Linked DNA regions of Homo sapiens: all the other regions are linked to region 2. The links come from fine-mapping of genetic effects on gene expression. A gene starts in region 2. Each other region holds a variant in brackets. All regions are shown on one strand. Distances are from middle to middle. Region 1 overlaps PM20D1 (peptidase M20 domain containing 1). Region 2 holds the start of SLC41A1 (solute carrier family 41 member 1). Region 3 has its middle 6.1 kb from the start of RAB29.

Region 1 (4,235 bases), 28 kb before region 2:
CTCTGTTTCTCTTCCAGATTGGAGCAGACACCAATGCCTATCATATTTGGAAGCGGGACAGTGGTGACTGTATTGCAGCAACTGGCAAATGAGGTATGGGAAGAAGTATCACATACTCCTAATCAGCTAGGAACAAAAGACGGACAGAAAAGTAACCTTTAGAGTAAGAAAAGGACCCTAGTACTGTCCAGCACTCTGCCTATTCTCACCTATTCCCAGCCAGTGGCTGAGCCAAGACACAGGGATCTGGCTTGTTCTCTACGGCTGTTAGTGTGTTTCTGAGACCCTAAGACCTAATCTACCCTTTGGGAGCTGGTTCCCACTTATCCTTGAGGTTGCTAAGCAATTGTTCTAACCAACCAGATAAGCCCAGCCAGACAGTAATTGCCTCCCTATTCCTGATCCTCTAGCAGGGATTGAGCTAACTGAATTTAGCAGCACTCCTGACTGCTAAGGGCCCCTGAGGCAGCTCTAAAGTAGAGAGAGACTCAGGTCTCAGAGACCCAGGCTAAACTAGAGGTGACCCTGTGGTGCTGACCTTGTTCTTTCCCAGTTTCCCTTCCCTGTCAATATAATCCTGAGCAACCCATGGCTATTTGAACCACTTATAAGCAGGTAAAGTATTATCTTTCCTTTTTTCACATCCCTCACCTCAAACCTACCCACCCCCCAGGCCCCTCTCCTTGGCTTAACTGGGCCTGACTAATCATCCCTCAGCCACCAGATACTGCATCTCTAAGTGTGTATATTTAAGACATCTCTAAGACGTCTCTCTCAGTCTTAAAGATCCCCAAGGTTCAGGAAAGTGGGTAATGTTTCCGCCCTTTCCTTCACCCCATTGGTTCTTTCTAACATCTGACCTTGGTCCTTTTGTTTTAGGTTTATGGAGAGAAATCCCTTAACCAATGCAATAATCAGGACCACCACGGCACTCACCATATTCAAAGCAGGGGTCAAGGTAACATCCCTGGTTCCTCCCCATATAGCTTTTCCCTACCGCCCTCCACTCCTCCCTTCCTTGAATCTATCTACTGGCTCTTCCTTCCTTCTGTGTGTGTCAGCTGGATCCAAGCCTAGCCACGCAAAGACATAGGCCTTTCTGAAATCTTGAAGGGAGTTAGACCATTCTTGTAACTGCCAGTACCACCAGCACAACTTCAGGGGGCACCATTCACCTAGAGTACAATGTGACCTTGAAGCACTCTAGTAATCGGGTATATAAGTGAATGATGCCTCTGAATTAATTCCTGGCATAACTCACTGGACCGTCCAGTGTGTCAGCTGTAGTGTTCATCAGAATAATAGCACTGTGTCCTGACATTTGAATGGTGTTTTCATCTCCCCAGGATACTTTGTTACTCCATCTGAGCCTTCTAAGAGTCCTATGAGTATTGCCCCAATACCCAGTTGAGAAAACAGAGGCACAAAGAGGTTGCAACAGCTAATTTGCAACAGCCCAGCTCTGTCCCTGACCACTTAGTGCTTTTTTGCACCATACGAGTTCAAAGAAAGATATGCACTTGGGGAGTCTCCCGGCCTCCAAGGAACAATCCCTCCATAGCCTAACTCTTTTCTCCAGTTAGTCCTGGATTCCTCCTGGTCAGGCAAAAAAGTCAGATTTTACAACTGGACCTGGGAAACCACCAATCCCTGCTAGAAGGTCGGGAATGGGGAGGCAATTACTGCCTGACTGGCTTATCTGATTGGTTAGAACAATTGCTCAGCAGCCTCAAGGATAAGAGGGAACCAGCTCCCAAAGGTTATGTTAGGTCTTAGGGTCTCAGAAACATACTAACAGCCCTAGAGAACAAGCCAGATCCCTCTGTCTTGGCTCAGTCACTGGCTGGGAATAGGTGAGAACAGGCAGAGCACTGGCCAGCACTAGGGTCCTTTTCTTACTCTGAAGGTTACTTTTCTGTCACTCTTTTGTTCCTGCCTGACCAGGAATATGTGAGGAGTATGTGTTCTTCTCATCCCCCTCAAGGATCAAACCTGATGTGAGCCCCGTGCTATGCCATGATGGGGGTCAACAGAGGCTCTGGCTGCCCCATCGTGAGTAAGCACTAATGTTAACAGCTGCAGAAATGTCCTGGGTGTGCTGGGAAAGAAAGTGCACACAGAAGGCTTCTAATAGCACAGCATGGGGCCAAAACAGAGATATCTGGGTGATCAGAGAAAGCAGCCTTGCTCTGAACATCTCTGTGACCCCCTGCAGCACCAAGAAGCAGGAAGGTCTGGCTTAAAGCAGAGACAC[C/G]CCTTCAGCTCTGAATATAACATGTCACTTAGTTCAGAGAAGACAAGAGGCAGACTAGAAAAGCTAAGCCTTGGGTCCTTAAGTCAAATCAGCCAACTCTGCCTGAGCTGAGGAAATTAGCATTTCCTGGGCAGGCAGATGTAGAAGATTTGAGGTTGACTCAAGCCAGGGTTTTGTGCTTCTCTCTCTAGTTCAATGTCATCCCCCCAGTGGCCCAGGCCACAGTCAACTTCCGGATTCACCCTGGACAGACAGTCCAAGAGGTATGTACCATATGTTCCAGACAACAACTCATGCAGCATCAGGGAGATGTGGCCCTCAGGGCCCGGGTTTAACTACAGTCCTAGGGCTGGTCCAGTGTCCCATTTATTCAACCAACATTTTTCAAAGACAACCTATGCACCGGATACTTCATTAGGATTGGAGATCCTGGGTTTGGGTAAACATGGGGTCTGAAATGGAAGATGAGTATGAATAAATGATAGCAATACCTATAGTAACAAACATTATATATAACATTATATATATGTAGTAGTGTAGTAGGCTTGCTGTGTATTTGGCACCTTTCTTCCTTTCTTTTTTTTTTTTTTTTTTTTTTTTTTTTGAGTCAGAGTCTTGCTCTGTCGCCCAGGCTGGAGTGCAGTGGCACGATCTTGGCTCACTACAACCTCCGCCTCCCGGGTTCAAGCGATTCTCCTGCCTCAGATTCCCAAGTAGCTGGGACTATAGGCACGTGCCACTATGCCCGGCTAATTTTTAGTATTTTCAGTATTTTGTATTTTTTGTATTTTTTGTACTTTGTATTTTTGTAATTTTTTGTATTTTGTATTTTTAGTAGAGACGGTGTTTCACCGTGTTAGCCAGAGTGGTCTTGATCTCCTGACCTTGTGAGCCACCCGCCTCGGCCTTCCAAAGGGTTGGGATTACAGACATGAGCCACCACACCCAGCCATATTTGGCACCTTTCTAAGGTATACCCATACATTTTAATCCTCACAACTACCCACCCTAAATCTGCATTTAACTGGTGAAAATTGAGGTACAGAGTACCAGAGCAATCAAACAGCATACCCAAGATTATATATCTAGCAGTCTAGTTCCAGAGTTTGTGCTTTTAGCCACAACCCTAAACTATGATTATAAAAATTAGAGGTGAACAAATTGCCATAGGACCACTGCAAAGAAAGAAATTCATGCTACTTCTTAGGGTCAAAAAAGTCTTTTCTGACTACTAAAATGTTGAACTGGGCCTTAGAGGAAAAACAGAACTTGGCTAGAAGTAAGACATTCATTGTGGCTTAACGAATAGAATAAACTGGGGACAAGTAATAGGAGATGAAAACTGATAGGAAATGGAGTTGTAGTTTAGGGATCTAGGCCTTGTATGCTATGCTGAGGAGTTTGGGCCCTAATCTGTGAAATCTGTGGCAGGAGAGAACTTTTAGAGGTCTTCAACCAAATACTCAGATTTGCTTTTAGAGAGGTCATGCTAGCAGCATTGCAGAGGGAGTGCTGGAAGAGAAGGAGACAGAGAGCTATTTCAGCATCTTAGGTAGTGCATGTGAAGGTCTGGACTGAGGCCATGCTCGTGGGGTGGAGAAGAGAGCAACCACCAGAGGTGGGAGAGAGGTGGGTTCAATAGGATGTGGTATGTATATGGGTATGGAGCGAGAGAAAAGCAGGATGGCTCCAAGGTTTTTAACCTGGGTAGTTGACCAAGTAGTTAATGCCTTTGACTAAGATTGGGAATTCAGAAATTAAAACAAGTTCAAGAATATCATAATTTGGAAGTTTGAGAAGCTTATAACATATGAAATAGGCAATTATAAATACCTCAGGTCTGGAGAGAGATATGAACTAGAGATATAGGCTGGAGTGTCATTAACATCATGGGAACCTCTAGATTCAATAAAAGCCCATGGGAAGAAGGTGCAGAGAGCTAGGAGAGAAAAGAGTTGAGGCCAGAGCCTTGCAATGGTCT
Region 2 (4,235 bases):
CCTAAATGCCTGGTATATTTCAATTAAAAAAATACACACAGGAGAGGGGAACAGTTTTCGAGTAAGTAAAAACACGGAAGGTAGAAAGGAAATAGGAGAGAGATCAAGATTTTATACACAGGTAGCTGAGCTGTGGCCAGATTAAATGGGGTAGTGGAGGGGAGGGAACTGTTGAATAGAACAGGGCAGAAGTTGCCTCCAGCCCAACCAAAGTTCCTCCAGATACATCAGCCTTAATTCCCCACCCAACCCCACACCCCGTATTCACAAACCTCATCTTTCTGGACAAGTCCCAGCATTTCCTAGACTAGCAGCTACTTCTCCTGGCAGAAAAACCCAGTATTTGAGGCCAAAACTGGGGTCTGAGACACTGATATTTTGCTCTAGTAGGTCCTGTGAGTCTGCAGGCCCTTGATGCAAATGCTCCAGAGCTGATCTGGAATCATCCTGGGGGTACTGGTTTGGGGTGGGTGAGGGGAACAGGGTTTGGTATGTGTATTTGTCATCCTTATCAAAAGGAATGACCTGCTCAGGTTGCTGTGTGTGCTCTTGTGAGCACGTGCCCAAAGCTTCATACACAGCACTGCGATCTCTTCTCCCCAGGCACATCTCCGCTCCAAACCCTATTCAGGGGTCTAGAGCCATGTTCGAATGCCCCCGGGCTACTTTCAGGGAGGAAAAGGACAGGAAGGAACCGTTGGTCACAGGTTCCACTGACAAGAGGGGAAAACTTGGGAGTGGGGGTTCCTTTATGAGGGAGGTCACACCCCCTGCACAAAAACATCCCAAAGAGAACTGGCATTGAGCTTGTGTTGGAGAGGTGGAGATACCCCAGGGAGGAAGTGGCGAAAGGTGAGCATGGGAACACCCCTCTTTGATCCCACAAGGTGCGTCAGGGAAAGTTGGATTTCATTTAGTCCGGGATGGTGACATCTCTCCGCACGCTGCCACCAGGCTCAGTGGGTCAGAGGAAGTGAGGCTCCCCTCCTCTCCGACCTCAGGTGATGCGTGTGCGACCCCAGCCATGGGTCTGACCTCCTTTCGCTCCCGCCCGCCAGTCTCCACCCCTTTCAAGGCCGGGACTTTTTTAAGGCCGGATTCGTCAGGGGTGAGCCATTTGCTCAAGGAACGCGGAATCTGGAGGGAGCCTAAAGTGACGAGCCGGCGGGAGAAGAGCAAGGTAGGGACTGTTCTGTCCGGGTACCAAGTGGGAGGAGGGAGCACGCGGCTGGCTGCTTGAGCCCGGGGGTCAGAGGTGGCTGGCTGGCTGGCTCCACAGGGACGTTTACCGGTCTTCCCGAAGGCCAGAGGCTCCAAGGAAACATCCAGAGGCAGGAGAGGACGCGCACTGTCGCACACGCCTCTCAAAGTCTGCTGGGGCTCCGACGCGGCGCAGCGGGCCCGGGGGCGGTAGCACCACGCAGCGAGCCCGGGCAGCGGGCCCCTCGGACCCCGGGCCGATGGGCGCTGGGACCCGCGCGCTCCAGGCGCATGGAGCCGGCTCCCGGTTCCCGTCACTCCTCCTACTGCGTTTCCCCGGCGCCCCGCCTCCTGGGCACGAAGCGAAGGAAGGGGGCCGGGCCGAGGTTGATCCCGCCCCCTCCCCAGTCCCTGATTGGCTGCTGCTGTTGTCCATCCGAGAATCTATTTTTGATGGAGCGGGGGGGGTGCCACCCAGTCTGCCCCAGATCACGTTTGCCACCGGCAGCCAACCAGTTGGGCCCGAGTCCGCGGGCAAGAAGCGATTGGGGGCGCGTGAGCTCGGCTCCCCGGTCCCCCGTCCGGGTGCCCCCCCGCCGGGCCCGAAGCGATATATCCTGCCCTCCCCGGCCACCTCCCCCGCGTGGAAGCGGAGCGGCGGCCTCGCTGTAACGCAGAAGCGAAATGTAGCGAGCCGGGTGTCGCGGCTGGACGCTCGCCTTGGCTGGGGGTGTGGGGGGGCACGCCGGGGGCCAAGGAGGACTGTCGAGGAGGAGTGATGAGAAGAGGGGGTGCCCTGCACCCCCCGAGACCACGGGCCACGCTGCCACTTGCCAGGCGCCCCCCTTCCTCCCAGGCGAGGGGCAGGTCAGTCCTGTGGGGTCCTGGGGCGGGGAGGGGGTGGTGGAGGGCGGCAGTCCTGGCGCGCAGCGCATTTGCTGAATCTGAGTGGTGGAGAGACTGAGGAGGCCACCCAGTTACTTTCTCTCCCTCCTCGGGGTTGGGGATACTAAAATGGGTCTTTTTTGTCCCCGCCTGGGAGGAGGGGATAGGGCGTCCTGGTTCACTTTTGCTTCTTTCGTCCCAGGGCCTTAGGCCTGTCTGAAGTCTCTTTACAGGGGGAGTGGTGAGGGAGGACTGGCTTCCCCTCCTGGGAGCCCCCTCTCAGGTTCAGTGGCCTGCCAGGAACACAGGAGGGAGGCGGGGGTGTCAGCTTTTAGCGGACTCAGAAACTTTTCTGGCATAGGGGCACTGGACTCAGAGGTTTCCTCCTGGATCTCTGGTGAGGGAGTTTGAAAGAACCACAGTACTGTGTTTAAGGAGATTGGAAAAGGGAGTCCTGGTGGGTGACTGAATTGATAGAGGAAACAGTTCTCCTGGGCCAGTTCCTGGGGTTTGATACCTCCTTTCCTAAACTGAACTTGACTAATTGTGTGTGTTTGGAATACTTAAGGACCTGTTCCTCTTACCTGGTGGAACTCTCTTTAAATTTATTTTTTACGAATAAGAGCTCTTCTGGTGAAATGGAATAGGATGGGAGTCCATCAGGAATTAGGAAGCCTGGGGATTCCTTTAGGCAGAGAAGTGGAGCCATTACAGCTAAAGAGATGCATTTGGAGCAAGTGCATATTGGCTTACGGTGCTTTGGTTTTTGTTTTGGGTTTTTTTTATTGCTACTTTTGTTTTTTTGTTTTTGTTTCTAAGAATTCCACTATATCCAACTCTCAGTAACCCTGGGGAACAGGAGGAGCCTAATTAACTGAAATGCGTGGGTAATAAGCAATCGTTTTATGCTCTGTCCCTTCTAACTGAGATAACTCCCTTGTCCTATCTGACAAGCTCACAGGGCCAAGAGCAGGGGGAGACGGGGAGAGACAGAGGCCTGGATCCGAGTCAGCTGTCTGAGCTCTTTGTAACACTGTTGACTCTCAAGGGCAGGAGTGGGTAGGCCTCTGGCTCTTGGCCTTGGTCTGGCAGGCTTGCCCCACTGCCCAGGGAGTCCTCCTAGCTTTGTTTTGTTTTCTCAGAAGCTAGAACGATCTGGGGTCTGGGGGACTTCACTCAGCAATCAGTTTCTCCCTATTTCTTTGCCCTGTGTGGCTGTCTTTCTGTTGCTGTCTTGTGATGATAAGCAGTCACTTTATACAGGGGTGGCTGTGTGGCAGGGAGTTTGTGACTGAATTTGTAACTGAACCCCACTTAAATAATGCAGGGTTCTTAATGGGCATTCAAGAAGGGGTCTTGCTGAGGACACACCTACCCACCCCCAGTTGCTGAGGAAACAGTGCAGAGGGCTTCTGCACAGCATCTTCCCAATCCCAGGCTGGTCACATCTCATTGCTGGTGACCACGGTGGTGATCCCTCAGGAGGGTTGCTGGTGGGGAGGATGGCGGGGATAGCTCCTGCTGAGCCTCCAGATGGAGCAGTGCAGGACTGAGTAATTTTTGCGGAAAAAGGGAGGCAAATAGCAAACTCTATAGCTATATGATGAACTCCTAACTTCCTTGGGGGGAAATTCTCCCAGTACAAGCTGTCCTTTGCTATAGTGTAATGTTCTTTTTCTTTTCTTTCTCCTTCCCACATAAGGTGTTCCACACTGATTCTCGTGACTTTAAGGACCAGGGATTTGAAGAGGTATTAGCTCTTCCCAGGAAGGGAGGAAGTTTCTGGAAGAGAAGGGAAAGACGGCAGACGCTGCGCTGGGACCAGCAGAGCCTGAGGAGCTGTGGGAAGCTGACAGAGCCCAGCCAAAGGAGCGGGAAGGAGCCGCAGCCCCAGGCTGGCACTGTGTTCTGAAAGATTTGAACTCAAGCTGCTTTTTACGGAAGAGGGGCCACTTCAGAGGGCACCCCAGAATTTGGTTGAGCTCTTCTACTCTGGATGCCCCCTGCTCTGAGGAGCCTGCCACTGAGAACCAAAGAAGATAAGAGGACAGATACTTTTTCTTCAAGCACAGAGCTGGTGGGTTGGAGTCAGGCATCTGCACCCCTAGTGGCTGTCTGGTGAGGAATTTCTTGTTTCTTCCCAGCTTGCG
Region 3 (4,235 bases), 31 kb after region 2:
GAGTTGAAATAACATAGGAAATTAGAACAGTCATGTCTGTGTTGGAAGGGAACTTTATTTTGTTTCACAGATGAGACTTTCCTGTGCCATATGGACAGTTGGGAACCACACAACCAGTTCTTTGAAGCAAAATTTTCTCTTTAGTTTTCACTTTTTTCCTGTCTTCTTTCCCTGGCCTTTATTTGGGGTGGAAGGAGGGTAGCCACAGAAGGAGGCAAATGTGACAACCAAGGCAGTGAAAACTATAGTTTGATGTTTTCCCTAGATACTCCCAGGCCCAAATCTGGCCTAGACCCTTGGCACGGGCCAGCAGAGGAATGACTGGCAGGCTGCCCTTTGAACTTGCCAGCCTCTCTGTCCTGAGGGTTTCCTTGGGCACCTTGCTGCGAAGTCTTCCAGCTGAATGCTTAGCTGGGTCACAGGCATTTCACCAAGCTGCCTGCCCCTCCCCAAAGCAACAGCCAAAAAGTTATGATCATCGAAGTGAGTCTGGGGGTTGGGGCTGAGGAACAGCTGTAGCCTCTTGACCTCACCCTTCTCTGGGTCTGTCCCTCTCCTCTGTGCTGCTGCTGGGCCATTTGCTATGTCACTTCAGTCTTCCCTTCATGTTACAAAGCATTTTTCCACTCTGCTCCTAGGACAATGTTGGAGGCTCTGGAGATTATATAAGCTGTCTCTCTCCTATTTGAAGTCAAGCTCCCAAGTCCTTAGGAGATTGCCTGGCACCAGATCATTTCTTCAACAAGTGTTCATTGAATTCATAGTGTAGGCATCACTAATAGCTACCTGACATCAGCAACATACTAAGATGCACACCACATCCTCTGTGTGGGGCTCTTGCCCAAAATGTTTCTTAAATCAAATCTTGAGGCAATAAACAGACAATCCAGGATATGCGACTTCCTGTAAGACAACTGGCATGGACTCTAAAAAGAAAGTCAAAAAAAAAAGGGCAAGGGATTGTTATAGACAGTACTGTCCAACAGACCTTTCTGTGATGATGAAACTAGTTTATGTCTGTGCTGTTCAATATAGTAACTGCTAGCCAAATATGGCTGCTAAGCACTTGAAGTGTGGCTAGGCAACAGATGAGCTGGTCTTTACATTTATTTATTTTAATTAATTACTTTAAAAAATTTGTTTAGAGATGGGATCTCGCTATGTTGCCCAGGCTGGTCTCGAACTCCTGACCTCAAGCCATCCTCCTGCCTCAGCCTCCCTGAGTAGCTGAGATTGCAGGCAGGAGCCACCAAGCCCAGCTGATTTTATATAATTTAAATGTAAATAACCACACATGGCTACTGGCTCCTGTATTGGACACAGCATGCTCCTAAGATTGAAAGAGACTAAAGAAATAGAATAACCAAATTCCATGCATGAAACTTCATTGTATTCTGGATGACAGGTGAGGAGAAAATGAGAAAAAAATATTGGGGAGCTATAGAGAGATGTAAATGTAAACTGTTTGTTAGATGATATTATTGGATTAAGGTTAATTTTCATAGATGTGACAATGGTATTTTGGGCTGGGCGAGGTGGCTCACTCCTGTAATCCCAGCACTTTGGGAGGCCGAGGCAGGCAAATCACTTGAGGCCAGGAATTCGAGACCAGCCTGGCCAACATGGCAAACCCCATCTCTATTAAAAATAGCTCGGTGTGGTAGCGTGCACCTGTAGTCCCAGCTGCTTGGGAGACTGAGGCAGAAGAATTACTTAAACTCAGAAGGCAGAGGTTGCAGTGAGCCAAGATGGTGCCACTGCACTCCAGCCTGGATGTCAGAATGAGACTCTGTCTTAAAAAAAAAAAAAAAAAAA[G/AG]ATAATGGTATTTTGGCTTTGTAGGATAATTTTATTATTAGGAGCTGCATGTTGAAGTATTTAAGCTTGAAGTGTCTGCTACTTACTTTCAAACAGTTCAACACACACACAAAGAGACAAAGCAGATATGGCAAAATGTTAGTAATTGGTAAATCCCGATGAAGGACATATTAGTATGCATTGTACTGTTAACTTTTCTATGGGTTTGAAATTTTTCAAAATAAAAAGTGGAAAGTAAAAAGTAGAAAAGAGAAAGGCAGACACATACAGGAAGTGTGGTAGTTACAGAGCAAGGCTGACCCCTTTCCCCAGCTTCCAAACTATATTTCCAAACATATACCAGTTGACCCTTGAACAACACGGGTTGGAACTGCACAGATGCGCTTACACAGGGCTTTTCTTCCTCTTCTGCCACCCCTGAGACAGCAAGACCAAACCCTCCCCTTTCTTCCCCTCCTCCTTGGTCTATTCAACATGAAAACACCAAGAATGAAGACCTTTATGATGAACCACTTCCACTTAATGAATAGTAAATATATTTTCTCTTCCTCATGATTTTCTTAATACATTTTATTTTCTCTAACTTACTTTATTGTAAGAATATAGTATATGATACATATAACACACAAAATATGTGTTAATTGGCTGTTTATGTTATTGGTAAGACTCCCAATCAACAGTAGGCTATTAGTAGTTAATTCTCGGGGAGTCAAAAGTGACACACAAATTTTCGACTGGAGGGTAGGTAGGCATTCCTAACCCCTGAGTGGTTCAAGGGCCACTATATGTGCAAATCAATTGTTTGGCACCTTGAATGTGTGTTCTCTTTCTCTTATTTATATCCGTCTCTCTTAAAAACTGAGATCAGAAATGCAATTTAGTGTTGAAGAAATACACCTTTCAGCCAGGCGCAGTGGCTCATTCCTGTAATCCCAGCACTTTGGGAGGCTGAGGCAGGGGGATCACTTGAGGTCAGGAGTTCAAGACCAGCCTGGCCCACATAGTGAAACCCCATCTCTACTAAAAGTACAAAAAAATTAGCTGGGCGTGGTGGCAGCTGCCTGTAATCCAAGCTACTCGGGAGGCTGAGGCAGGAGAATCGCTTAAACCCAGGAGATGGAGGTTGCAGTGAGCCGAGATTGTGCCACTGCACTCCAGCCTGGGCAGCAAAGCGAGACTGTGTCTCAAAAAAAGAAAGAGAGAAAGAGAGAAAGAAAGAAAGAAAAAGAAAGAGAGAGAGAGAGAGAAAGAAAGAGAAGAAAGAAAGAAAAGAAGGAAAAGAAAAGAGAAAAGAAACGAAAAGAAAAAAGAAAAAAAAAGAGAAGAGAGAAAGAAAAACACTTCTCATCCCCATCAAAGAAATGATTACTACTTTGAGAACTGTGTCTTTCAGGGAGTACCAGAAATTTGCTAATCTTCCCTCTTAAATCTTAACTCCCGACCTTTCCGATTTTGGAAGCTAAGAGTAGTTCCTTTCACAGATGATCAGGAGCAAAGTCAAAATTTTGAAGGAAAAATTTACTTCTTCCTGTTTTCTTCGAGACACGCTGGTTGCTTATATAAGTTAAATAGTTACAAATTGGTCACATAGTTAAGTGACCAAAGTGCAAATAGAATATAAATGCTACAGGCCAGGTACAGTGGCTCACACTTATAATCCCAGCACTTTGGGAGGCCAAGGCAGGCAGATGACAAGATCAGGAGTTCGAGACCAGCCTGGCCAATACGGTGAAACCTTGTCTCTACTAAAAATACAGAACTTAGCAAGGCATAGTGGCACGTGCCTGTAATCTCAGCTACTTGGGAGGTTGAGGCAGGAGAATCACTTGAACCCGGGAGGCGGAGGTTGCAGTGAACCAAGATAGCACCATTGCACTCCAGCCTGGGTGACCAGAGAGCGACTCCCTCTCAAAAACAAAAAAAAGGATAGGCCGGGCGTGGTGGCTCACGCCTGTAATCCCAGCACTTTGGGAGGCCGAGGCGGGTGGATCACAAGGTCAGGAGATCAAGACCATCCTGGCTAACACAGTGAAACCCTGTCTCTACTAAAAAATACAAAAAAAAAAAATTAGCCGGGCGTGGTGGCGGGCGCCTGTAGTCCCAGCTACTCGGGAGGCTGAGGCAGGAGAATGGCGTGAACCCGGGAGGCGGAGCTTGCAGTGAGCCCAGATCGCACCACTGCACTCCAGCCTGGGTGACAGAGCGAGACTCTGTCTCAAAAAAAAAAAAAAAATTAAAAAATTAAAATAAAAAAATAAATGCTACAGGTGACCAATAAAGGCTGCAATAATAAGGGAAATGTTTATAAATAAGTAGATATTTAAGTCAGGCCTTGAAGCACCATTTCTCAAAAGTACTATTTCTCAAAGTGGAATGTGGTGTAGCAATCACATGAGTACTTGTCAAAAATGCAGATTAAC

What was found. PIP is the estimated chance that this variant, and not a neighbour inherited with it, causes the effect. A credible set is the group of variants that fine-mapping cannot tell apart.
Region 1: its variant is the best candidate, but not a certain one, in a credible set for the expression of SLC41A1 in sun-exposed skin (GTEx, PIP 0.79).
Region 3: its variant is the best candidate, but not a certain one, in a credible set for the expression of SLC41A1 in skeletal muscle (FUSION, PIP 0.55).

The regions. Positions count from the first base shown.
Region 1 is chr1:205,838,534-205,842,768 of GRCh38, reverse strand. It overlaps PM20D1 (peptidase M20 domain containing 1), which reads left to right. Exons shown (of 13, transcript NM_152491.5): 7 at 18-93; 8 at 554-615; 9 at 880-958; 10 at 2,446-2,517. Among named protein-coding and RNA genes, the nearest start is that of PM20D1, 9.5 kb to the left of the region's middle. The variant C/G (reference allele first, on the strand shown) is at 2,255.
Region 2 is chr1:205,810,640-205,814,874 of GRCh38, reverse strand. It overlaps SLC41A1 (solute carrier family 41 member 1), which reads left to right and starts at 1,677. Exons shown (of 11, transcript NM_173854.6): 1 at 1,677-2,067; 2 at 3,788-4,235. RefSeq lists silencers at 1,317-1,546, 1,687-1,946 and an enhancer at 1,383-1,883.
Region 3 is chr1:205,779,424-205,783,658 of GRCh38, reverse strand. No RefSeq gene overlaps it. Among named protein-coding and RNA genes, the nearest start is that of RAB29, 6.1 kb to the right of the region's middle. The variant G/AG (reference allele first, on the strand shown) is at 1,816.